Linked DNA regions of Homo sapiens. The protein of the gene in region 1 interacts with the protein of each later gene in a pairwise test. Each region holds a gene or a part of one and is shown on either strand. Other genes may lie near its edges. The genes, in order: ZSCAN21 and GRAP2.

What was found.
Region 2: the proteins of ZSCAN21 (region 1) and GRAP2 interact in binary tests that used the Homo sapiens proteins (3 or more experiments, as listed by UniProt).

What each region holds. Positions count from the first base shown.
Region 1 is NC_000007.14:100,056,738-100,068,563, reverse strand, and holds the end of ZSCAN21 (zinc finger and SCAN domain-containing protein 21), read right to left. Parts: intron 11,654-11,826; 5' UTR 11,558-11,653; coding exon 11,159-11,557; intron 10,867-11,158; coding exon 10,674-10,866; intron 4,777-10,673; coding exon 3,947-4,776; coding exon of another isoform or gene 3,913-3,946; 3' UTR 3,777-3,912; coding exon of another isoform or gene 3,652-3,776; 3' UTR 3,524-3,651; downstream 1-3,523. UniProt on the Homo sapiens protein: Strong transcriptional activator. Plays an important role in spermatogenesis; essential for the progression of meiotic prophase I in spermatocytes.
Region 2 is NC_000022.11:39,957,965-39,971,023, reverse strand, and holds part of GRAP2 (GRB2-related adapter protein 2), read right to left. Parts: intron 10,970-13,059; coding exon 10,850-10,969; intron 10,628-10,849; exon of another isoform or gene 10,105-10,627; intron 7,105-10,104; exon of another isoform or gene 6,650-7,104; coding exon of another isoform or gene 6,455-6,649; exon of another isoform or gene 6,119-6,454; intron 5,035-6,118; coding exon 4,866-5,034; intron 2,983-4,865; coding exon 2,752-2,982; intron 1,614-2,751; coding exon 1,491-1,613; intron 120-1,490; coding exon 1-119. Other genes in the region: TMA7B (translation machinery-associated protein 7B), read right to left, coding at 6,455-6,649. UniProt on the Homo sapiens protein: Interacts with SLP-76 to regulate NF-AT activation. Binds to tyrosine-phosphorylated shc.

The DNA.
Region 1 (11,826 bases):
GTATCTGAGATTACAGGCGCCCACCACCACGCCCAGCTAACTTTTGTATTTTTAATAGACAACGGGATTTCACCATGTTGGCCAGGCTGGTCTTGAACTCCTGACCTCATGATCTGCCTGCCTCGGCCTCCGAAAGTGCTGGGATTACAAGCATGTGCCACTACGCCCAGCCTATGCAAATAAATTTTAAATCTGTGTTCTCATGGCTGTAATCCCAGCACTTTGGGAGGCCAAGGCGGGCGGATCACGAGGTGAGAGTTTGAGACTAGCCTGGCCAACACGGTAAAACTCTGTCTCTACTAAAAATAGAAAAATTAGGCTTGGTGGCACATGCCTGTAATCCCAGCTACTCGGGAGGCTGAGGCAGGAGAATCACTTGAACCCAGGAGGCAGAGGTTGCAGTGAGCTGAGATAATGCTGCTGCACTCCAGCCTGGGTGACAGAGCGAGACTGTCTCGAAGAAGAAGAAAAAAACCTGCCCATGTCCTGATGGCTCTCCCAAGCCTCAGTCGTGGGTCTCCAGTGGACTGCAGAGCAGTTACACCTGGACTTTCTACAGTTTCATAGTATGTTTCAAACCAGATCCCACTTTCCCATTTATTGCCCCCTCTTAAAATTTCTGTAAACCTGTCAGGATCAAAATTTTGTAAGTTTTCTTTGATTATACTCCTCATCCTCCTCCATCTAACCAGCATCAAGCCTGGGCAGGTTCAGTAAAGATGGAGTGGAATGATACTGTTTTCAGAGTTGAGATTGTAGAGGAGATGGGATTTGCAAGTGATGGTAGCAGTAGCTGATACATGGCATATACTCTGTGTCAGCGTTGCCTGGCTCTTTTCCGAGTGGTTTTCATGTATTAATCAGCTGGGTGCAGTGGCTCACGCCTGTAATCTCAGCACTCTGGGAGGGTAAGGCAGGAGAATCGCTTGAACTCAGGAGTTCAAGCCCAGCCTGGGCAACATAGTGAGACCCAGTCTCTACAAAAATAAAAATTAGCTGGGCGTGGTGGCACACATCTGTAGTCCCAGCTACTCAGGAAGCTGAGATGGGAGGACTGCTTGAGCCCAGGAGTTGGAAACTAGCCTAGGCAATATAATGAGACCCCTGTCTCTCTGAAAAGAAAAAAATCCAATACTTGGCGAGGAATGATGGCCTACAGTAAATGAGGTAGAGCTGCTAAAATGATGAGCAGAGAAAGGGTGTCAGCAGACTCAGCGTGTGTTAAAATGAATTTCTTACACGAGATCTGAGAACCAAACACCTATGTTATCTCGGAAGGCCCAAATAGCTTCCCGTTCACTCAGACAATAAAGGATGAAGTGAGGGGAGCACCGGGATTGTTCAGTGACAGCTGCCTCAGCAGGGTTAATAGTAGGAGATTCTGCCACAGAACAGAGTTCCCTGTTATTAATGGGATGACTGGTCAACAGAGGCCAGGCGGCAGCACTGAGCTATCACAGGCAAAGTGGACACAATTACCATGATGGGCAACCAGGCCAGAGTGGCAACTAGGGTGATTTTTTTTTGAGATGGAATCTTGACACTCTGTCACCCAGGCTAGAGTGCAATGGCATAATCTCGGCTCACTGCAACCTCTGCCTCCTAGGTTGAAGCAATTCTCCTGCCTTAGCCTCCTGAGTAGCTGGGACTACAGGCGCACGCCACCACACCTGGCTAATTTTTGCATTTTTAGTAGAGACAGGGTCTCACCATGTTGGCCAGGCTGGTCTCAAACTCCTGATTTCAGGTGATCCACCTGCCTCAACCTCCCAAAGTGTTGGGATTACAGGCGTGAGCCACCACACCCGGCCTATTTATTTATTGTTTGAGATGGAGTCTCACTGTGTTGCCCAGGCTGGAGTGCAGTGGCGTGATCTCGGCTCACTGCAACCTCCACCTCCCAGGTTCATGCCATTCTCCTGCCTCAGCCTCCGGAGTAGCTGGGACTACAGGTGCCCGCCACCACGCCCAGCTAATTTTTTTTTTTTTGTATTTTTAGTAAAGATGGGGTTTCACCTTGTTAGCCAGGATGGTCTCAATCTCCTGACCTCGTGATCCGCCCACCTCGGCCTCCCAAGTGCTGGGATTAGAGGCGTGAGCCACCACGCTCGGCCTTATTTTTGTTTAAATTAAATATGAATTTAAAAAACAAGAGAGATGGGATCTCACTATGTTGCCCAGGCTGGTCTCGAACTCCTGGGCTCAAACGATCCTTCTGCATCAGCCTCCCAAAGTGCTGGGATTATAGGCATGAGCCACTGTGCACAGCCCACTAGGGTGTCTTGACCCACAGAGAACTGTGGCATTGACTAATAACCCTTGGTGTTCTTAACAAAAACTTTCAGCCAACAGGATAAGGCTTTGATTTGTATAAACAAAAAATCCCAAGAGTTGATGAGAAGGCTGATACCGGCTGTTACAATGGGAAATTGCAATCCTGCTGCTGCTTTCCAGATCTGAGCCAGTTCTGAGATCTGGAATCCATCAAGTTAAGGGGAGTCTGGGTTTCTTTGAAGACCTTCCAACTGTACCACGAGTATTATGCAATAAATATTTCCCCAAAGGACCTGTGGCTGTTCACTAGAGTAACGTACTAAGAAAACAGAATGCCCAGGCCTTTTGAGGCTTTTTGATACAGGATCTAGTATGACACGGATCTAAAACTTACCATTGCCCTCCAGACACAGGTCAGCTGATAAATGGAGTCCTGGCCCAAATCCATCTCAGTGGGCCCAGTGGGAACAGACTCACCCTATGGCCATGTCCCTGAGAAGATAATTGGGATATGTTTAGCAGGGGGACAGATGCCCAGCACATTGTTTACTTAACCTGTAGCTTAGGTCATAGGCAGAAGGGTCAAGTGGAAACTCCTGCACACCCTGCCCTTCCCCAGCCAATCAAAGTGGCAAGAAACAATACCACACCCTGAATGGAACTGAAGTGATTATTGCTGCCCTCAAAGACGCAAAAGACACTCTTTCTGTATGGCTTCTGTAAAAAACCGACGAGTTGTGGCTGATAATGGTTGTTTGCCACAAACTCATCCACAACAGCTGTGCCGGCACAGTTCAACATGGCCCCTGGCTCTTGGTATGCAGTTATTATCTAGTGAAAGCATTCGCTTTATTTTTTTTTTTTTTGAGACAGAGTCTCGTTCTGTCACCCAGGCTGGAGTGCAGTGGCGCAATGTTGGCTCACTGCAACCTCTGCCTCCCGGGTTCAAGCGATTCTCCCACCTCAGCCTCCCGAGTGGCTTGGACTACAGGCACCCGCCACTATGCTCAGCTAATTGTATCTTTAGTAGAGACAGTGTTTCGCCATTTTGGCCAGACTGGTCTCGAACTCCTGACCTGAGGTGATCGACCGCCTCAGGCTTCCAAGGTGCTGGGATTACAGGCGTAAGCCACCGTGCCTGACCCCCAAATCCAAATTTTCTAAAAGCTAAACCAGTAGGAATAGTTTTCTCCATCTGTAAGTATTCAATAACCAACACATCATTTGTTATAATAATAGTCCTGAGGCATTACAAGATGTTATAAGTTTATTCTGAATCTCATTCAATTGTGTTCAATGTGGCTCAATTCTTTACAAATTAAAATTCTTGAATATATGTTAAAAATTAAACAATCTTAATGTTTCTTCCTTAACTAGACTGGATACACGTCTGTTTAACTACGCAAAAGGTAATGCTGGCATGGCTTACTGGGACCCTAAGTGTGGCGAAGGGACTCTGCTCCAGTGAACTGGCGAGTGTGGAACCTCCTGACACCTTCTGAGGACCTCCTGCCTGCCATGTTGCTGTGGAGCTCGCACTCCTCAGGCATCCCCTGATGTTGAGTGATACAAACTCTATCACCGGAATCGATGCTGCTGCAATGACAAGACTTCTTTCTGGTTTTCAGATTCTAAAGTTTAAAACAACGACAACAACAGGAGCGCTTGAAAGTTACGGTGCTTCTCCCTCTCCAGTGTGGACTCGCTGATGTTTGGAAAGATTGGACTTGCTACAGAAGGTCTTTCCACAGTGATGACACCAGTAGGGCTTTTCCCCGGTGTGGATTCTGTGGTGTTTATTGAAGTTGGAGCTGTGGTTGAAGGCTTTCCCACACTCCTTACACTTATATGGCTTCTCTCCGGTGTGGAGTCTCTGGTGGGAGCTGAGGCCCGCATGCTGACTGAAGCTCTTCCCACATTCGTTACACTGATAAGGCTTCTCCCCAGTGTGGATCCGATAGTGACGAATGAGGCTGCCTTTCCCGCTGAAAGCCTTGCCACAATCTTTGCACTGATATGGCGCCTCTTCTGTGTGCATTCTCTGATGTTTAAGAAGGTCTGAGCTCTGCCCAAAAGCTTTTCCACACTTACAGTCATAGGGCCGGTCCACCAAGTGTGTTCTGTAGTGGAGGGTGAGGTTTGAGCTGTGGCTGAAAGCTTTCCCACACTTGGTGCACACGTAAGGTTTCTCCCCAGTGTGTGTTCTCCTGTGTTTGGTGAGATTTGAGCTATTACTAAAGGCTTTGCCACATTCAGCACATATATAACGTCTCTCTCCTGGGGTAGGTTTAGTAGGAACTGATTCTCTACCTTTCTTGGAGCCTGCCTCTTGAAGAGGGGGTTTTGTTCCTTTTTCATTTTCAAGGTTTACGCACTGCCTCTCTAAGCTGGCCTCAGGTTTATTGGCGATAATCACAGAAATTATATCCCCTTTGAGCCCCTCTGCTTCAGAACCTTTCTGCTCATCTGCTGATTCCTCGTGCTGGGTACTCAATCTGCAATCTGAAACAATAAGCAGATTAAGGATACTTCAGTTGTTTCTTGTTCTGAGGAAGAAACTGTTACCAGAGAGATAGAACCATCAGGTGAGACTGATGGTTTCTGAAGGGTGACTAAACAGAGCTCATGATAGCGCATAGATACAAGTAAATCAGCATCCAATCTAGTTTACAATACTGCACTTCTTTTTTTTTTTGAGATGGAGTCTCGCTGTCAGCAGGCTGGAATGCAGGTGACCTCAGCTCACTGCAACCTCCAACTCCCTGATTCAAGCGATTCTCCTGCCTCAGCCTCCAGAGTAGCTGGAATTACAGGCACGTGCCACCACACCCAGCTATTTTTTGTATTTTTTTTTAGTAGAGATGGGGTTTCAACATGCTGGCCAGGATGGTCTTGATCTCCTGACCTCAGGTGATCCGCCTGCCTCAGCCTCCCAGAGTGCTGGGATTATAGGCATGAGCCACCAGGCCTGGCCTCCATACCACACTTTCACACAATTCCCCACCCGAAGCTATTAAGATGTGAAGAGAACGTGGCTTTTTCTGCCAGAAAAACAGCTTCACATACAGAAGGCAAAATGCAGCATATGAGAGTGGTAGCCGGGCACAGCGGCTCACGCCTGTAATCCCAGCACTTTGGGAGCTGAGGCGGGAGGATGGCTTGAGTCTGGGAGTTCAAGACCAGCTTGGGCAACATAGGGAGACCCCATTTCTACAAAAAGTTAAAATAAAAAAATTAGGTGGGCATGGTGTGCCCCTGTGGTCCCAGCTACTTGGGAGACTGAATAAGAGGATCACTTAAGCCTGGAAGGTCAAGGCTGCAATGGGTCAAGACTGCAGTGAGCCATGATTGTGCTGGCCTGGGCAACAGAGTGAGACCCTATCTTTAAAAAAATATTTATTTTATTTATTTATTTTGAGACGGAGTCTCATTCTGTTGCCCAGGCTGGAGTGCAGTGGTATCATCTTGGCTCACCGCAGTCTCCGCTCCTGGGTTCAAGTGATTCTCCTGACTCAGCCTCCCGAAGAGCTGGGACTAGAAGCACCTGGCACCACGCCCAGCTAATTTTTGTATTTTTAATAGAGATGGGGTTTCACCATGTTGGCTAGGCTGGTCTCAAACTCCTGACATCAGGTGATCCACGTGCTGGGATTACAGGCGTGAGCCACCGTGCCCAGATGTTTTTTTTTTTTTTGAGATGGAGTTTTGCTCCTGTTGTCCAGGCTGGAGTGCAATGGTTCAATCTCAGCTCACCGCAACCTCTGCCTCCCAGGTTCAAGCGATTCTCCTGCCTCAGCCTCCCGAGTAGCTGAGATTACAGGCATGTGCCACCATGCCCGGCTTATTTTGTATTTTTAGTAGAGACAGGGTTTCTCCATGTTCTAGACCATAGGCTGGTCTAGAACTCCTGACCTCAGGTGATCTGCCCGCCTCAGCCTCCCGAAGTGCTGGGATTACAGGCATGAACCACCACACCCGGCCCTTTAAAAAAAAAAAAAAAAAAAAAAAGAACAGTTGAGCCTCACGCAGATTAAAAACAAGGGAGAATGACTGCTGCAGGGCCAGGGTTAAGGAAAATGACAAGGACAATTAAGGATGAGGCTGAGTGGCAAACTCACAAAAACCCATGTTCCCACAGCAGTTGAACATAAAAGCAATCAGAGGGCATTCTGACCATTTACAATCATTCCCGCCCCAGATCCGTATCAATCAGAATGAAAGCACGTGATCTCCAAGAGGGCTTCACGCTCATCATTTACTTACACTGGCTACATCTTGTAATTCAGTTATAAAGTGACGCTCACTATTAAAATCAGATGGAACCAGTTTATCTTTTTAGAACGCCTCACCAGGCAGTCACACCTCTTCAAAGTCCACCTGGCCATCCACATCAGGGAAAAGGGGAGTAAGAGAAATTCGCTCTGAAAAATGGGACCCCTTGGAGAACTGTTAGTCCTCTGAGGGTACAGAAGCCTGTCAGCAAGCTACCTTCTTCACCCGTTTCCCCTTCCCTAGGAACCGCCCTGACAGCTTCTCTCTCTCTGCCCAGCTGTCTATCTCCTTCCTTTGCTGACAGTGACTATCAGCTGCTTCCAGGCTCACCCTCTCCTCACCATCTGCTGGGGGTCAGAGCTTCAGCAGCTGAAGTCCTTCACACTCTCCATAATTAGCAATCGCTTGCCTACACACAGACTTCTCTTCGAGTCACTGGACAGCCATGGACTACATGTGTGGGACAGAAGTAACCTCATAAACTTTGTTTTGTTTTGAGATAGAGTCTGGCTCTGTTGCCCAGGTGGGAGTACAGTGGCATAATCTTAGCTCACTGCAACCTCCACCTCCCAGGCTCAAATGATCCTCCTGCCTCAGCCTCCCGAATAGCTGGGACCCCAGGCACTAGCCACCACACCTGGCTAATTTTCGTATTTTTTGTACAAATGGGGTTTTACCATGTTGCTCAGGCTAGCCTCAAACTCCTGGCCTCAAATGATCCACCTGCCTTGGCCTCCCAAAGTGCTGGGATTACAGGTGTGAGCCACCATGCCCAGCCAAAAGTTAACATTTTAAAAAATAGCTGAATGAGGCAAAAATTGAAAAAGAATTTACCAGGACTATTTATTTCATTGTCTTCCAGGCTGCACTGTTACTGTTGGGTAGTTTGTCATCAGTCTAATCAGCATTCCTTTGAGGGGGGTAATCCGTCTTTTATGTCTTGGTTACTTTTGAGACCCGGTCTCACTCTGTCGCCCAGGCTGGAGTGCAGTGGTGCAATCTCAGGTCACTGCTGCACCACAACCTCCACCTCCTGGGTTCAGGTGATTCTCCTGCCTCAGCCTCCCAAGTAGCTGGGAGCTGGGACTACAGGCGTGTACCAATACACTCGACTAATTTTTGTATTTTTAGTAGAAATGTTTTTTTTTTTTTTTTTTTTGACGGAGTCCTACTCTGTTGCGCCAGGCTGGAGTGCAGTGGCGCGATCTTGACTTACTGCAACCTCTGCCTCCCAAGTTCAAGCGATTCCCCTGCCTCAGCCTCCCGAGTAGCTGGGACTACAGGTCCCAGGGACAACACGTGCCACCATGCCCGGTTGAGATGGAGTTTCACTATGTTGGCCAGGCTGGTCTCAAACTCCTGACCTCAGGTGATCCGCCTGCCTCAGCCTCCCGAAGTGTTGGGATTACAGGCGTGAGCCACCATGCCCAGCCAGTCTGGTTTTTTTTTTATTTTTTGAGATGGAATCTCACTCTGTTGCCAGGCTGGAGTGCAATGGCGCGATCTTGGCTCACTGCAATCTCCGCCTCCTGGCTTCAAGCGATTCTCCTGCCTCAGCCTCCTGAGTAGCTGGGACTACAGGTGCATGCCACCACGCCCAACTAATTTTTGTATTTTTAGTAGAGATGGGGTTTCACCATGTTGACCAGGATGGTCTCCATCTCCTGACCTCATGATCCGCCCTCCTCGGCCTCCCAAAGTGCTGGGATGACCGGTGTGAGCCATCATGTCTGCCCTCTCCAACTCTTTCCGCCTCCTCTGGAACAGCTATTAAACATACACTGGACCTTCTCATCTGATCCCACACTGATGTCCAATGCCTGCCACCTTGATCTTTCTAAGTAGCATTTCAGATGACTTCCTTCCATCTACCTCTGTTTGCTAATCATGTCCTTCATTATTTAAAACAGCCATTGCATTCTTCATTTCAATGACTACAGTTTTCACTTTTAGAAATTCTATTTTGTTTCTGTCAAAGGTGCCTGTTTGTGTTTTTATTAACAGTTTCTTGGCTGGGCGTGGTGGCTCACGCCTGTAATCCCAGCACTTTGGGAGGCCGAGGAGGGCGGATCATGAGGTCAGGAGTTCGAGACCAGTCTGGCCAACATGGTGAAACCCTGTCTCTACCAAAAATACAAAAATTAGCCGAGCATGGTAGCAGAAGCCTATAATCCCAGCTACTCGGGAGGCTGAGGCAGGAGAATCACTTGAAACTGGAATGCGGAGGTTGCGGTGAGCCGATATAGCGCCACTGCACTCCAGCCTGGGCAACAAGACCGAAACTCTGTTTTTTTAAAAAGAGCTGGGCGTGGTGGTGTGCACCTGTAGTTCCAGCTACTCGGGAGGCTGAGGCAGGAGAATCTCTTGAACCTGGGAGGCAGAGGTTGCACTGAGCCGAGATTGCATAAATGCACTCCAGCCTAGCAACAGAGGGAGACTCCGTCTCAAAAAAAAAAAAAAAAAAAAGACTTTATGCAAAGCTTTCACAGCCAACTTCCCTTTCCTTAGGAGGGCCCAGCAGCTTTGTCTTCTGTCCCATCTGGGTACTAAAACCCAAGCCTGTTCCTGGCTCTGATAATCCTTCCACTCCACCCTCCTCTTTGTGTAATACTGCCAAGGGGCTACACCAAGAGATATGGAAAATAAAACTGACCAGATAGGTCTCCGGCTATTTTTATCTCTAATTACTGTGGCAACTCTGGGGAAACCCCAATTGCCTGGAGAGGTCTACTGTGTTCACCATAAACCATGAAGAATTTAGCTAACAGTTTAATTTTTTACTTTTCCTAGAAAATGTGATTTTTAACCGGCTCGAAACTCTGTTTCCATGATGGAGTTTCACGTTTCAGACACAGCAAGCATGGAGGGAGATTTCTGAGGGCCATGGACTCTTGTCATGAAATCACACCACACACATAAATAGTGGTCTACACCACCAACACGTAAGCAAAGTCCTGGTTTGAAACTATTAGGATTTGGAATAATATGCCATATTTTTGCAAACATATAATTAAACATTAACTCTGTTTCAAAGATTTAGTTCTAATCCTTCTGGTAAATGAAGGTACTTAAGAGTAGAACCCATAAAATAACAAAATAACATAGGGCCAGCTTGGGCAACATAGTGAGACCCTGTCTGTACAAAAAAATAAAGTTAGCCAGACATGGTGGTCCCAGCTACTTGGGAGGCTGAGGTGGGAGGATCATTTGAGCCCCAGAGATTGAGGCTGCAGTGAGCTATGATCACGCCACTGCCCTCCAGCCTGGATGACGGATGGAATCCCTGTCTCAGAAAAACACACAAAAACACCCCCACAGGGGATGACCATTTATGGCCTGAGATTATTCTATAAACCATAATATATGGAGATTTGAGCTCAGGAGTAGTCACCTAATACAGCTTTGACTTGTGAAAAATGCCCCACCTCTTTCCATAGCTTCAGAAAGGAGGTTGCCAATTATTTCCCATTTGCCCTTCTCAGATCCATTCTCTGACCCGCCCTGTGCCCCAGGAAGCTGACCCTAAGGGCTGCACTGTCTTGTCTTTCCTGCCCTCTGGCTGCCAACTGAGTTTGTCATTGGGGAACAAAAGCAGGAGATTTAAGGGCAGGAGGAGGGTGCAGTTGGGGTATTTATTCCGTTTTCTCCTCATCCCACAGCAGGGCCTACAGCCACAACTTCTATCAAGTGACCCCCTCCTCCATGACTATAGCTCTTACCTGATTCTGGTAAGAGGGTCCCCCTCTGTCCCTTTAGGCTCACAGGGAGTAACAGCTTTTCACTGTTGTCTGGTGCAACACTATTCCTTATTGGTTCATTTGAAGTCTCTACACCTCTGTTAACAGTTTCTTTTTTAAACTCATTTCAATTGACCCTTTAAAAAAAATTATTTGTAATACTCAGACTTCAAAGAGAAACTGATCCTTTAAGAGTGATCCATTCCCATGCTAGGGCCCAGGTTAAGACAGCCTTACTTGGGGGAGGAAAGGGGACTATTTCCACCCAGTCAGCCCAACTAATCAAGTCAATCTATGAAATCACCTCACAACCAAGAATTACTAATTATTCTGCTTCTCCAACCACAGGGGCCTGGGGCACTGAATAGGAGTCTAATGGGTGGTCCTCACCTCGGACCTTTCTTGGATCTTGAGCGAACTCCTGCTCCTCACCAGACTCTTGGATGTACAGGGGCCCCCAAGACTCGTATTTGTGACTGGTCTCCAAGGGCTGTGGCTGCATGCTGCTCGGGGATTCCTTTGCAGTTCCTGAGGAGGATATCTTCTCCCACACCGGTTTCTGTTCGTTTGGAGGAGTTGAGACCTAGAGACAATCAGGAATGGCTAGGTTTGTGCATGGCTCACTTTAAGACCAAGAATGAAAATCCCAGTAGAGCTACATAGAACCTCTAGGAAAGAGAAAAGGAAAACACCCATCCCATTCCATTCCCAAGGCTAAAAGTTAGTTTAGGATGATAGAGAAAAATAGGAGGAAACAAGGTCTAATTCAGCAGAAATTTCCATTCAGCAAATCTTAATGTATGGACAAACCCTTGTTCCTGCCTAGAATGTTACGCTCCCAATCTCCTAGAATAACAAAGGTCTCTCCTGCCTACCTGGTGTCCTGGCTCATCCAGTTCCCGCTCCAGATCTTCGAGGAGAGTGACAGCCTCTTCAGCGCTCTCCGGGCAATGCTCCTGCACCCAGGCCTGGAGCTCCTGGGGCAGGATGGTCAGGAACTGCTCCAGCACCAGTAGCTCCAGGATCTGCTCCTTGGTGTGGATCTCGGGCCTCAGCCACTCACAGCAGAGCACCCGGAGTTGGCTCAGGGCCTCTCGGGGTCCAGGGGTATCATGGTACCCAAACTGCCTGAAGCGCTGGCGGAACATCTCCAGGCTAGGAAGGTACTTGCCTTTCTCTTCTTTCTCCTCGACTTTTACCATCAGAGGCCCCACCTGCTCCTGTGGAGGCCTAGGGCCCAGAACTGGGGCCATGCCTAGTACCTTGGTCATCATGTAAACTCCAGAAACAGCCTCACCAAAGATGGGACTCTGTGGGGCAGGAATATTCGTTCCTTTGGGTTTCCAGTTCTTTAGGGCCACAAGTTAAACCTAAGAAAATATAGTTACCAAAAAATAATCAAACTGAAAAGTGTTTTTGGGTCTTTACAGCCATACCTTTAACACAAGAAATTGTGGAAATTATGTCCACCATAAAACTACCATACAAAAACAACTGCTCAAAATCTTTCTGGAATGAGCTGGGTACAGTGGCTCATGCCTAT
Region 2 (13,059 bases), on another chromosome or scaffold:
CCGGTCCACCAGGATGGGTTGGAGCTATCCAGGACCTCCACCACCTCCCCGCTGTGGAACCCCAGCTCGTCATCCTCCAGGGCCTCAAAGTCATACAGCGCCCGGGCCCACCGCACTCGCTGTTGGGGGAAGCACAGAAGAGGCTCTGCTGAGCTGTGGGCTGGGCAGGCAGGGGAGGGTCTGCTGGCTCCTCCCACCACATCCAAGTCTTTGAGAGCAACATTCCCTGAAGGCTGACCCCTCTGCAGCTTAAAAAAACTTTTTTTGTAGAGATGGGGTCTTGCTATGTTGCTCAGGCTGGTTTTGAACCCTTGGCCTCAAGAAGTCCTCCTGCCTTGGCCTCCCAAGTAGCTGGAACTACAGGTGTGAGCCACCATGCCCGGCTACCCTGCTGCAATTTAAATCAGATACCTATGCACAGGCCTGAGCAAGAAGTTCCCAGAACGCACCAGCGTCACTCTGGAGACCCAGGACTTTTACCAACAGATGTTATTGTCCAAAGCCCCAATAGACTCCCTGAGAACCACTCTCTCCACATCAATAGGTGGTATTTTTATCTTGAGTGACAAACAGAAGGGCAACATGCCCCAAACAACAGCCCTTGGTGTTAGGGCAATCAAGTCACAAGTCAAGATGGATCACAGGCCAGGCACGGTGGCTCATGCCTGTAATCCCAGCACTGTGGGAGGCTGAGGTAGGAGGATTGCTTGAGCCCAGGAGTTCCAGACCAGCCTGGGCAATATAGCAAGAGCTTATCGCTACAAATAATATACCTAGCTACTTGGGAAGCAGAGGCAGGAGGATCGCTTGAGCCTAGGAGTTTGAATCTGCAGTGAGCCATGATTGTGCCACTGCACTTGAGCCTGGGAGACAGAGTGAGACCCTGTCTCAAAAAACAAAAAAAAGATGCAATGATAAAGGCAATGGTAAAGGACTATGATAAAGATGATAAAGAACTAGAACTGAGAACTATGAGAACAGGGAAGGCCTGGCACCAGACTGAGATCAACAGACTGGACGGTGCTGGCTCAGCCCCAGGCCTCCCCAAACATTCCATCACCTCTCGTTGATCTGTGTGTGCATTTTTGTTTTGTTTTGTTTTGTTTTTTGAGACGGAGTTTCGCTCTTGTTGCCCAGGATGGAGTAAAATGGCGCAATCTCGGCTCACTGCAACCTCTGCCTCCTGGGTTCAAGCAATTCTCCTGCCTCAGCCTCCCAAGTAGCTGGGATTACTGGCATCTGCCACCATGCCTGGCTAATTTTTGTATTTTTAGTAGACGTGAGGTTTCACCATGTTGGCCAGGCTGGTCTCGAACTCCTGACCTCAGGTGATCCACCTGCCTTGGCCTCCCAAAGTGTTGGGATTACAGGTGTGAGCCACCGTGCCCAGCCAGATCTGTGTGGTTTGAGTCTCTCCTGCCTCATCTCCTCCATTGACCTCTGTCCCAAGGCCTTTCCCCAGGGATCCCAGAGAAGGACAGTTCCCATACCCCTGCCGCCTGGAGCTGCACTGGGTCTGTGTGTCTCCGATGCATGAGGGCCGCATTCATTTCACTGCCCAAGCCGGTGCCACAATGCCCATCATTTATGTCAAGGCTGCCTCCTCGGCGTTCCTAGAAACATACAACAGAAGACTGGTCACCCCACTGCCAGGACATCTCCCACCGGTTCCCCCAGTGCCTTGCTCAGATGCCATCCACAGAGCCGGTATATTCCAGGAATACTTACTGATAATGACAATAAACCCTCCACGTTGAGGAGGACCTAAGGTCTAAAGGCACCTTAGATTCTGAAGGCAAAGAAGGCAAAGGCAGGTTTTATTTATTCAGTCAAGAAATATTTATCAGGCACCTACCATGTTTCCAGTAGCAGACACAAGGGAAATATAGCTGGAAAGAGAAGGTCTCTGGCTTCATGGAGCTTCCATTTAGAGGGGGAACCATGCACATTTAAGTGGTAAGTGAGCAGAGAGAAGAAATGTCTGTATCTGCCCGGGAAATCAAGGAAGGCTTCACAGAGGAGGTCATGCTTGAACTCCAGCTTAGAGGGGTAGGACTGCCCAGGGAGGGGCTCATCAGGCAGAGAGATCAGCATATAAAACGCCACAAAGGCATGAGAGGAAACGCAATGGACCATTCGGGTAACTAAGGCAGCGTGGGGGGTTGCTGGAATGTGTGTTTGCACGGGGAGTTGGCAGGGAGGCAGCAGGGACGAGGCTGGGGAAATAGATTCTGGCAGCTCACAAAGGACTTTGTGTGCCCTGCTAAGGAATTCAGGAATGATGTTATCTGGCCGTATTGTCCATCTCAGTAAGCCGCCTGAAATCCCATCGGGAACAAGGGTGGAGGGAGATAAATAAGTAATAAACAAGGCTCTGTTGTGGGTATTAAGCCTTTTTCTCTTGTGGATCTGACAGCCAGATGGGCTAAGGGGCATGAATAGATTTGGAATTGTGCTGATAGGAAAATGAAGCAATTGTTTACTGGGTCCTCAGGGGAAGTGTGTGTGTGTGTGAGTTTAAGTGTGTGTGTGTGTGTGAGACAGTGTGTGTGTGTGTGTGTGTGTTCAGGTGGGAGCCATTTAATTCATAGAGATGTCTTTGCCAAGAACAGTTTCCCTATTTCTGCCATTTGGGGGGGTCCAGGGTCTTCATCATGAACTCTCTGAGAACTCAAGAGGCTGGGCCAGGCCTGGAGGGGAGGCAGGTTCTCCTTTCCACCGTACTGTGCCCACTGCCTTCTTTCCAGATACCTGGTGGAAATGGTGGTGCTGCAGATATCGCTGCTGTGGGGGCTGCTGCAGCTGCTGGGGCGCTGGGGCATATTGCGGAGGCTGTGGCTGGTGCTGGTGCTGCTGCAGGGGAAGGGTCGGGGGGTGATCCGACAGCTTCCGGTTCATCGAAGGTCGGATTTCTTCTCCCACAGCCCCACTGAGGTGTGGGCCTCCCTGGGACCTCCGGTCCAGGCTGTTGCCCCGGTGACCCTGGGAGAAAGAACAGAGATGCTGCAGATGCATCCTCCTCTCTGATCGTCTGGCCCTACCCTACCCTCGGGCAGTTGTTCCCAGACCCTGCTCATCTGGCTCCAAGAAATAGCTGGTGGGGTGGGGGCAGCTAAAAGATAATTGATGCTTTAGACCTTCACATTTTCCAAAGTGGCCTCTGCATTCTCAGATCCTCCCAGTTTTAGGAGTGCAGGTCTCTGGTTCACAGACTAACACTTTTTGCCTGGTAGCCATTTAGTCCATTTCCAGGGCGCTCGTTTTTTCTCTGTGTAATCAAGCTGAAATATTCCATTTTACTGATACAATGCCACCCCTTCTTATCACATGTTGCCACACCACTGGACAATCTACCCTCCAGATAAGCTCCACTGTTGACTTTGCATGATTTTGAACTGTCATTTACAGCCTGGTGATAGAGACCCAAACAGCAACATTCTTGCAACACCATGGGAACCAGGCCTGCCGCCGGGCTGGACGTGGGGGAAGAAGTAAGGCCTTTTTCCCTAATGTTACAACAACCTTACAAATCAGAAATACCGTATTGTTAGTTTCATTTAACAAACAATTATGTAGGACCCTGAGGGCAGCATATACCAGGCACTGTTCTAAGCGCTTTACAAATATCAACTCATTTAATCCCATTTAATGCAATTTTATATTGCTTCTCTGAATGCCCATCCTAGTGAGTTAATACCTCTGTCCGTTTCCTGGTTAGAGTGATTCACAAGGTCTTGGCTAGCCTTTGTTTTCCTTTCTGAACTTCTGTGTGCATTTGGTGGTAACTTCTTTTCTCCTTTGGCAGTAACTTCTCAGGCTTAAAAGCAACTAGGGACTCGAAAAAGGAGGATTTTCTTGACTTCCCCAAAGCACACATTGCTTTCACAGTCTCAATATCTTTTCAAATAACCTGTCCCTAGGATTTCAGCTATTCTAGTGAATGCTTCTTCCTATGATACCTGTCTCTTATAACCATGTTATTTCCTTTGAAAAATAGTTCATAAATTGGTGTGTGTGTGTGTGTGTGAGTGTGTGCATGTGTGAATTTACTTATGGGAGGCAAGTTAACATGTTCTTAGTGTTTAATATGGACCAGACTCTGGTAGTGCTTAGCTGTATTAAGTCATTTAATCCTCACAACAGCCCAGTGAGGGAGGTTTTATTGCTCTCTCCATTCTACAGATGAGAAAACTGATACTCAGATGGTTTCTTAACTTGGCTAGGTAATACAGGTAGCTAAGCGATTAAAGCAGGATTTCATACCAGGTCTGTCTGACGCATTTCCTTTTAAAGCAATAGTCTGTATTGCAAACAGTTGCAACAGCAATAATTCCAAGTGCAGTTTTCTCCTCCCATGTCCTCCCTACCCCCAATCCCATCATAAAACTCCACATGCTGATTTAACTCCTGAACTCTAGGCTGTTCCCTAATGTCCCTGTCTGTAGCACCCCCAACTCCTTCATCCTTGGGCAACTCTTGAGCTAGGTTGAAAACTTTGGTGTAGCAATGTCTATGAATAACAAAAAAACAGCACCTGTGGTAAGAGCTGATGCTTGCTGAGCGCAGTGTGATGAGGAATGACATGAGGCGTGGGATACATTATCTTCTCCAACCTTCACAGCCATTCTGGGAGGTAGATATTACCATTGTCCCTACTTTATGGATGAGGAAACTGAGGCGCAGAGAACTTTCCAAAGTCACACGACTAGGAAGTGTTAAGTTGAGATCTGACCTCAGAGCTCTGAGCTCTGTCTTTCAGTATACTCAGAGGATCTACCCATCCTATGCATTTTTCCTGGTGGTTCATGTGAGAACTCAGGCTGCCTAAAATCTCTAGATTGGGGTCGACTGGATCTGGAGCATACCTGGTCTTCTCGGGTTCTGTCTCTAAGGAAGATCTGCTTCTGTCTGGAGATGGAATTTGTCCTGTAGTAGTCTACCAGCTTATTTAGGGATGGAAACTTCTCAGTCCACAGAAAGTAATTACCCTTGTTGTCTCGCATGACCTTGAAGTGTTGAACGTCATCCTCATGCCTGGAGATCAAGGCAAAACAAAATTGTATGTTACACGGTGATAATGTCACCACCTCCAGGCTGCTCACATCTGGGATGGTGGAGTTCTCTTTGAGCAGGAGATGTAGATATGGATGACTCACTCATCACTGGGCAGGTGGGCCAGCCCAGTCAGGCTTCGGCAGGAACTTTGTAGGATGGACCACTTAGGATACAGGCTATGCTAGACGGGATTTACATCAGCAGAAGGTAATCAGATGAGCTAAAATTTGTTTTGGACACTGGAACTAACCTTTTACAAGAAAAGCATGTTCCAAGTGACTTAACGACAAAGAGATCAAAGACCTTTTCACAATGTTTATTCGCAAGATGTCAACAGGGGTATTTCAAGCTCCTATTATCTTTCTGTTACCAGAAATTCTTTGAACCATCTCCTTTAAGCCCATAAGCTAGCACTGGCAGGTAAGAAGCTACTCTCTTTCCTAAGAAATATGTCACATTTTTTCTCTATGTAATAAGGATCTCTTGATCTTGGTTTATGTTTTGCATAAATAAGGTTACAAAGTGTTTTCAGCTTTTGGTGAAATAGCTTTGTATGAAATACAGAGTTTTTGTTTGTTTGTTTGTTTTGTTTTTTTGAGATGGAGTCTCACTCTGTCGCCCAGGCTGGAGTGCAGTGGTGTGATCTCTGCTCACTGCAACCTCCGCCTCCCAGGTTCAAGCGATTCTCCTGTCTCAGCCTCCTGAGGAGCTGGGATTACAGGCACCCACCACCAAGTCTTTAGTAAAGACGGGGTTTCGCCATGTTGGTCAGGCTGGTCTTGAAGTCCAGACCTCCGGTGATCCACCTGCCTTGGCCTCCCAAAGTGCTGGGATTACAGGTGTGAGGCACTGCGCCCTGTGAAATGATAGAGTTTTAATTGGCAAGGATGTTGGAGATTGTTTAGCCTTACTTCTCCATTTTACAGATGAGGACACTGAGGCTCACAGAGGTGCAGGGGCTTGGTCAAGGTCACTGCTGAGTAAGGGCTGAGGCCAGAACCCTGAGTCTCTGACTCCAGTCTAGTGAGCTTGGCCTGTCACGCCACCTAAACATGATAACTTCTTTTTTCTTTCAAATGAGTTGGTTTAATTTCAGGTGATACAAAGTTTAGGGTAGAACAACGACCAAAGAGCAGATTCTGGCAAGATTCTGAGCTGGTTTTACTTTAAATTCACAGTTATGGTAGGAATGACTTAGTGAAAACAACTAAAGAGATGATGAGCCACTGGAAGATTTTTTTTTTTTTTTTTTTACAAAAGTTTATTCTTAAATGTACAACAGCTCCAAGACGACACTTAATTCCAACTATAGGTGGCAAAAGATATTATAGGAGGGAATAGAGAGGTTTAAATACGGATGAAATAAAGGGTCACCGTCTCCTTAGGCACAAGGAACAGCTTATTTTTTGCCAGATTTCTTAATTCCACCTGTGGCCAGAGGCCCCTTCCCCACGACCTTCGCTTTTAGCACCTCGAGTTTCTTCTGCTCCTCTTTTTGTTTCTGCTTGAAAGCCTTCTCTTCCTCGTCCATCTCCTTGGCCTGCTTCTTGGGCTGTTTCAGTGCCTTCTTCTTGCCACCTTCGTGGCTGGACATGGCGCCTGCCGCCCCTTCCCCAGACCCTGCCACTGGACGATAACTTCTTTTAGATCAGCACCTTTTGTTGCCAGTCTGGACTCACAAGTGATGGGACACATTCGAACCAGGGCTAGAGAAAATGGATTTTATCCATCTAGGAAGGGTGGGCTGAGCCTTTACCATTAGATCCAGTTTTACTTCATTGCCAAGTCATTCTCTTTTGGATGTAAAGTTTATTTTTCAAACAGACATACATTTATATCTAAAAATAAACTGGCACTAGTGATGCCAATTGCCTGATGTAAAAGAAAGGTCAAGAATTTTAAAGGGTCTCGGAGAGTAAAGATACCTCTGAGAGTAAGTGGAGGTTTCTTTTTGAGTCAGAGTCTCGCTCTGTCGCCCAGGCTGGAGTGCAGTGGCGTGATCTCTGCTCACTGCAAGCACCACCTCCCAGGTTCATGCCATTCTCCTGCCTCAGCCTCCCAAGTAGCTGGGACTACAGGCGCCCGCCACCACGCCCGGCTAAGTTTTGTATTTTTAGTAGAGACGGGGTTTCATCGTGTTAGACAGGATGGTCTCGATCTCCTGACCTCATGATCCGCCCACCTCAGCCTCCCAAAGTGCTGGGATTACAGGCGTGAGCCACTGCGCCTGACCATGGAGGTTTCTTAGGGATGGATTTAGGGACCTGTGTTAAGAAGGAGATGGAAATTCTGACCCTCAATCTCATCTTATGTGCTGGGATTTGCTCATAGCTGGGTGAAGCCACAGGTTGTACAAGTGGCCTCTTGCTTGACTGATTTCGGGTGGTAATCAACATATTGCAATCACTTTGTGGTCTTCCCCTTGGTTTTGGCCACCAACAGATACTTTCTTCATTCTAAGACAACATGGATCAACTCAAAGTCATTATCCTTCACATCCAGGTGAGGAGGAGAAAATATTCTTGTGATATTATAATTTTTCATCCACCACCTCAAAGAACTCAGAGTGTGAAACATTGACCCTTTTACTCTCATAAGCTGTAAGGATGGGTGTGAGGGTTGCAGCTGGTTATCTGGGTCTACAAGGAGAGGATGGCCTGACCATTGTCTCAAGCCTGAAGAGGAACAAAGGAAAGGATGCGACTCAGGGCGCTGGACTCCAAAATCTGGTGTTTCAGGCCCTTAACAAATGCTGAGTGATAGAACTACAATTAGCTCTTAATTATCTGTGCCCATGACAGATGTAAAAATAATTAATAATGATTTTGCTTTGGAAAATATTATACTACATTTCTGCAAAGACGTGATAAGGATTACGGTAATTGTCACCATAACTAGAAGCTTCATCGCCTGAATATCAGGGGAAGACTTCGGTAGAAGTCAAGGCCTACTGTTTTGTAGAACTCACTTTAATTAAGGAAATATAAACCATAGTTCTGGGTCCGGGCACAGTGGGTCGCGCCTGTAATCCTAGCACTTTGGGAGGCTGAGGCGGGTGGATTACATGAGGCCAGGAGTTCAAGACCAGCCTGGCCAACATGACGAAACCCCGTCTCTACTGAAAAAAACCACACACACACAAATTAGCCAGGCGTGGTGGTGCGAACCCATGGTCCCAGCTACTCAGGAGGCCAAGGCACGAGAATTGCTTTGAACCTGGGAGGCGGAGGTTGCAGGGAGCCGAGATTGCGCCACTGCACTCCAGCCTGGGCGACAGAGCGAGAGTCTGTCTCAAAAAACCAACGAAACCACAAAAACCATAGTTTCTAGCTGAAAAAGCCAGAGTCATCTTCATGCAAACCAAAGGCCCAAGAGATACCCCTCAGTCTAACAAATTACTTGGTCAAGTTTATGATGGGGTAAAGAGGGGAGGCTTAAGAAATAGATTTGACTTGTAATATATATACACGCATGTTAAATATATGTATAATTGTTTTTTCTAATAATATATGTATATAATATATGTAAATAATTTTTTTCTCTTGAGACAGGGTCTTGCTCTGTCACCCAGGCTAGAGTGCAGTGGTGCGATCGATCTTGGCTCACTGCAACCTCAACCGCCCAGCTCCAACAATCCTTTAACTTCAGCCTCCCAAGTAGTTGGGACCACAGGCATGCGCCACTGCACTGGGTTAATTTTTTATTTTTAGTAGAGATGAGGTCTCACTAGTTGCCCCGGCTGGTCTCCAACTCCTTGGCTTAAAGCATTCCTCCCAACTCAGCCTCCCAAAGTGCTGGGATTAGAGGCATGAGCCACGGCGCCCGACCCTGACTTGTAATATATGTTAATGGAGCGAAATTTCATTAATTAAGACCTAACAAGATTAGAATTTGTGATACATCAATATTGGCCTGAACTAAAGTTAACCATTCTCCAAGCTATGAAAATAAAGTTTTTACTGAAGAAAAGAGTTTAAGCAAGATTGCAAGGGCAATGCTAAAGAGACCACTTTAAAGGTATGTATGCATACAAATTGTTGACCTGTTATTTTTAAGTCCTTCCTACCTATCCTTTCAAATATCCATTCTTTCTAAACAGCAAAGTGGCCACAGTTTATTACTTGAGATTGGATTTCTGTCCTTAAAACAAAGCTTTATGCCTTTCAAAATATATTGAATAAACCAGATCGGTATTTCCTGCCAATAACTTGACAGTAAGGTTTTGCTGTACTTCTCCTGATCTGCTAACAGCATTATATTCTTGCAGTTTCACATGTGGTGAAGTCTGATACGTGACTTGCGATCCTCAACATGCTGACCACACACAGTGTGTTCCGAACTGGGCTTCTGAGTTTGGGGCTGTGTAATGTCTACGCGTGGACTGAGTCACTTCCTATGGGTTGCTGCACCTTAGTGAGATTTCGCTGTTACAGTCCTCCCCCACTCCTGGCCCTCTGTTCTGTGGTTTTCGGTCTTGCTGTACTGTACTGTGTTGAAGTAGCCTTTCTTTTTGTTCAGCTGCCTACAACTATACATGTATTTGTTGGGGCTCAGAAAACGACACCCCTTGGCATGCTGAGTGCTTCGAACCAAAGGAGATGGGAAGGTTTCAGAAGCAGCCTTGGAAGCAAAGTCTTCCTTTGGCCTTCTCCTGCCCTCCTGTCTCCCGCTCCTCTTTCTCCCCCTGAGTGAGTCATAGAAATTAGAATTCCTCTTCCCCACAGTGGGTCAGAGAGACTAGAAGGGTCACTATGGGGGAGGCCAAGGCAGGAGGATTACTCGAGGCCAGGAGTTTGAGATCAGCCCAGGCAACACAGTAAGACCTAGTCTCTACAAAGAAATAAGTTAAAAAAATATTAGCCAGGTGTGGTGGTGTGCACCTGTATCCCCAGCTACTTGAGAGGCTGAGGTGGGAAGATGGCTTGAGCCTGGGACACAGAGGCTGTGGTGAGCAATGATTGCGTCACTGCACTCCAGCCTGGGCAACAGCTGTCTCCAAAAAAAAAAAAAAAAAAGAAGACTTGGGACAGGCCTTGTTCAGTTTCCTACCTCAGTCTGTTACCTTAGATCAAACCCCCTTTGTCCAATCCCATTTCTACAGGGCTGTCTGTCCTTTGACAAACCTAAGCATAAAAATAGACGGCTTTCCCTGGGTCTTGGGTCTTCATTTCTGAAGGCTTCTGTGTCACACAAGTCTTTGATTAAATAAATGTGTCCACTCTCCTCTTGTTAACCTGTCTTGTAGGAGTGTCAGCTGTGACTCCTCTGATGGGCAAAGAAAGGTGCCACAACTTTTCCGCCCCTGTATATCCTACAGCAGTGACTTGAGATTTCTATTTTTCTCTGACTCTTCTTCAGATATGCATCAATCATAAAAGAAAAGGTTAAGATTTAAACCCCCAGATGGATCTGGACAAGTGGGAGTTCTCCTCCTCCTATCCCTCCTTCCTTCCACAAATACTCACTGAGTGTCTCTCTTTTATGCAAGACACTGTTAAAGGCATAAAGATGAAGTAGAGGAAAATCCTGCCCTTCCAGAAGCACCTGGGCTAGAAGGGGAGGCAGATGGGCGTAGAAATAATTTCAAACACACACCAGTGTTCTAAAGAGTGGTGTGTGCATGTTTTGGGAAGGCACTGGGAGCAGCAGGTTGTGAAGCTGCTGCCATGCTTGGCCCCTAGGCCACCATGCTTCTGACCATTGGGTCATATTCCAGAGGTCCCTTCATGGCTTCAGCATTCTGTGAGGTTAACAGGCCGAGAAGGGCCAAGGCAGTGTCAGGAATGGTCAGTACCTGACAGAGATGGAGAAGTCCCCTGGGGAGCTCTGGCTGGCCCGGATGATGAAGAAGCCAACCTCCTTGCCCATGAGTAAGTTCTCTGCCTGGTGTCGAGAGAGGCCTTCGTGAAACCATCTGTGGGGGCGAGATCAAACAAAAGGATCAGGATGAGACACAGGAGTGACAAGAGGGAGACGTGGAGAAGAGGTGACCCAGAGGGAAAGAGGCTGGGGACTCTGTACAGTAGGGAGCAGAGAGAGACCAGGTGCTGTTTGAAATCAAACCAGTGCTCCAGGCAGCTTTCAGGAAAGGCGAGGGAGCATTCCCCTTGATTCACCCTCTTTGTTCCTTCTCTCCAGGAGAAGTCTCTCTCCAGCCTGGGAAACGAATCATGGAAATGTGTCGCTGCACCAAAATGGGGCAGTGTGGGAGTGACTCACTGCAGGAAGCAGCCGCCTGCCGGCAGCTGCGGAAGAGATAGACCAGAGCTGCGAGGACAGAGGATGCACTGGGGAGGGAAGGGAAGGCTTCAGGCACTGGAGCCAACCAGGTGCAGCCGGCTGAGCAGGGCCTGGGGTGCTCATGCCTGCCCTGAGGTCTCAGTGGCCTAGAGGTTCCTCCCTGGGTATTAAAGGAAAGTTACAGCCCAGGGCGTCACGTTACCTAGGCTGGCATGGAGCACAAGGGGGCTTTGCTCAGTGTGCCTAGCAGAGGCTGCAGTGTTCCTAGGGAGTCCAGTGTACATGCTTGGAAATCAGCGAGGCTGGCAGCCGCCAGAGAGCGGCGTCTATACAACCAGATCCTGGGCCTGCCCCAAAAATCCAGGCTGGGAAATAATCTTTACTGTGGAAAAGAAGAAACAGGAGAAATTACTCTTTTAGCAGAATGGTCAGGGTGGCAGCCCCTGGAGGTACAGCTGCATACAGCGTGGCATGTATGAAATAGGTCAAACACTTACACAGGGCCAGGCAAGCTGTGGCTGCAGCCTCAAAGCAGGAGGCCAGAGACCTCTCTCCACCACAGACAAGCAAAATGAGTGTCTGCAATCACTCAGCGGCCAAAGGTGGGACTGTGTCACATTGCTTCAAGGTGGCTGCTCTAATTGCTGTCACCAGAAGGCTCATACGCATGTTCCTTTAAGATAAAAGCCCGTCAGGCCTTGGCTTTGGATTCCTTTGTGAGCAATTCTCTGTGCTTTCTAGAATTTGGGAAACTGAGACATAGGTAGCAGGAAGGATGTACTTACTGGAGACTGAGTCCCCCACTGGGACTGAGGGGGAAGTTTGGCTGTGCTCTGAGAGGGCTGAAAGCAGCAGTTTCTGGTGGCCTGGAGATTCTGCCTGAGTATTTGCCACACAATTCTACAGGGCTAAACAAGAGGCCACCACACACACCACTGCCACGTGTGGGAAATGTAATGGGGATGGGAAGAGGAATGGAGTATGCACCACAGCAGCCATATCGCAAAGGAAACATTTCAGAAGTGAAGGGGATTTAGGAAATACACATTTGTCCTCTGACTGCAATCTGATAGGGGGCTTCTTTAAAGATTTGTAAAAATCACCACACATTGCATATTAGACATGAGTGGTCATGGTTTCAATAATACATATTCGTTCGTTCATTCATTCATTCATTCATTCAACAGCTTTACTGAACATCTAGTACTGTGCTGGGCCCCTCCTGGGCACTGGGGACACAGTAGTGGGCAGAACAGACACACACCCCTGCCCTCAGGGAGCTTACATTCTAGTCGAGGGGGACACACACAAAAGAACAAAATAATTAAGATCTGAAGCGTGCCAGATGATGGTAAGTGCTGTGGAGAACATGAAAACTGAGAGGAGAGATGGGGCGCTGTGGGTGGGAGATTAATGTAAGGTATGGTGATGAGAAAGACCTCACTGAAAAGGAGACATTCTAAACCTATAGGGGACTGGGGAGTGGGAGGAACCAACACAAGAGACTGAGGAGGAGAAGCCAGGGCAGTGGGAGGACAACCGGAGGAAGGACGTCCTGGAGCCAAAATGAAAGAGGTGTTCCAGTGGGAGGGGGGATCCCCAGGGCAGGTCATGCTGAGATGACCCCTGGGAGCTACAGCCCATGGGGAGCCTGGTGGGAAGGGTCGGGAGATGAGGAGTTGGAAGTAGCAAATGCACACACTCCTTTTGAAGAGATGGAGTGGCAAGTGGAAGGGGATTTGGGATTAAGAATTTTCTTGATTT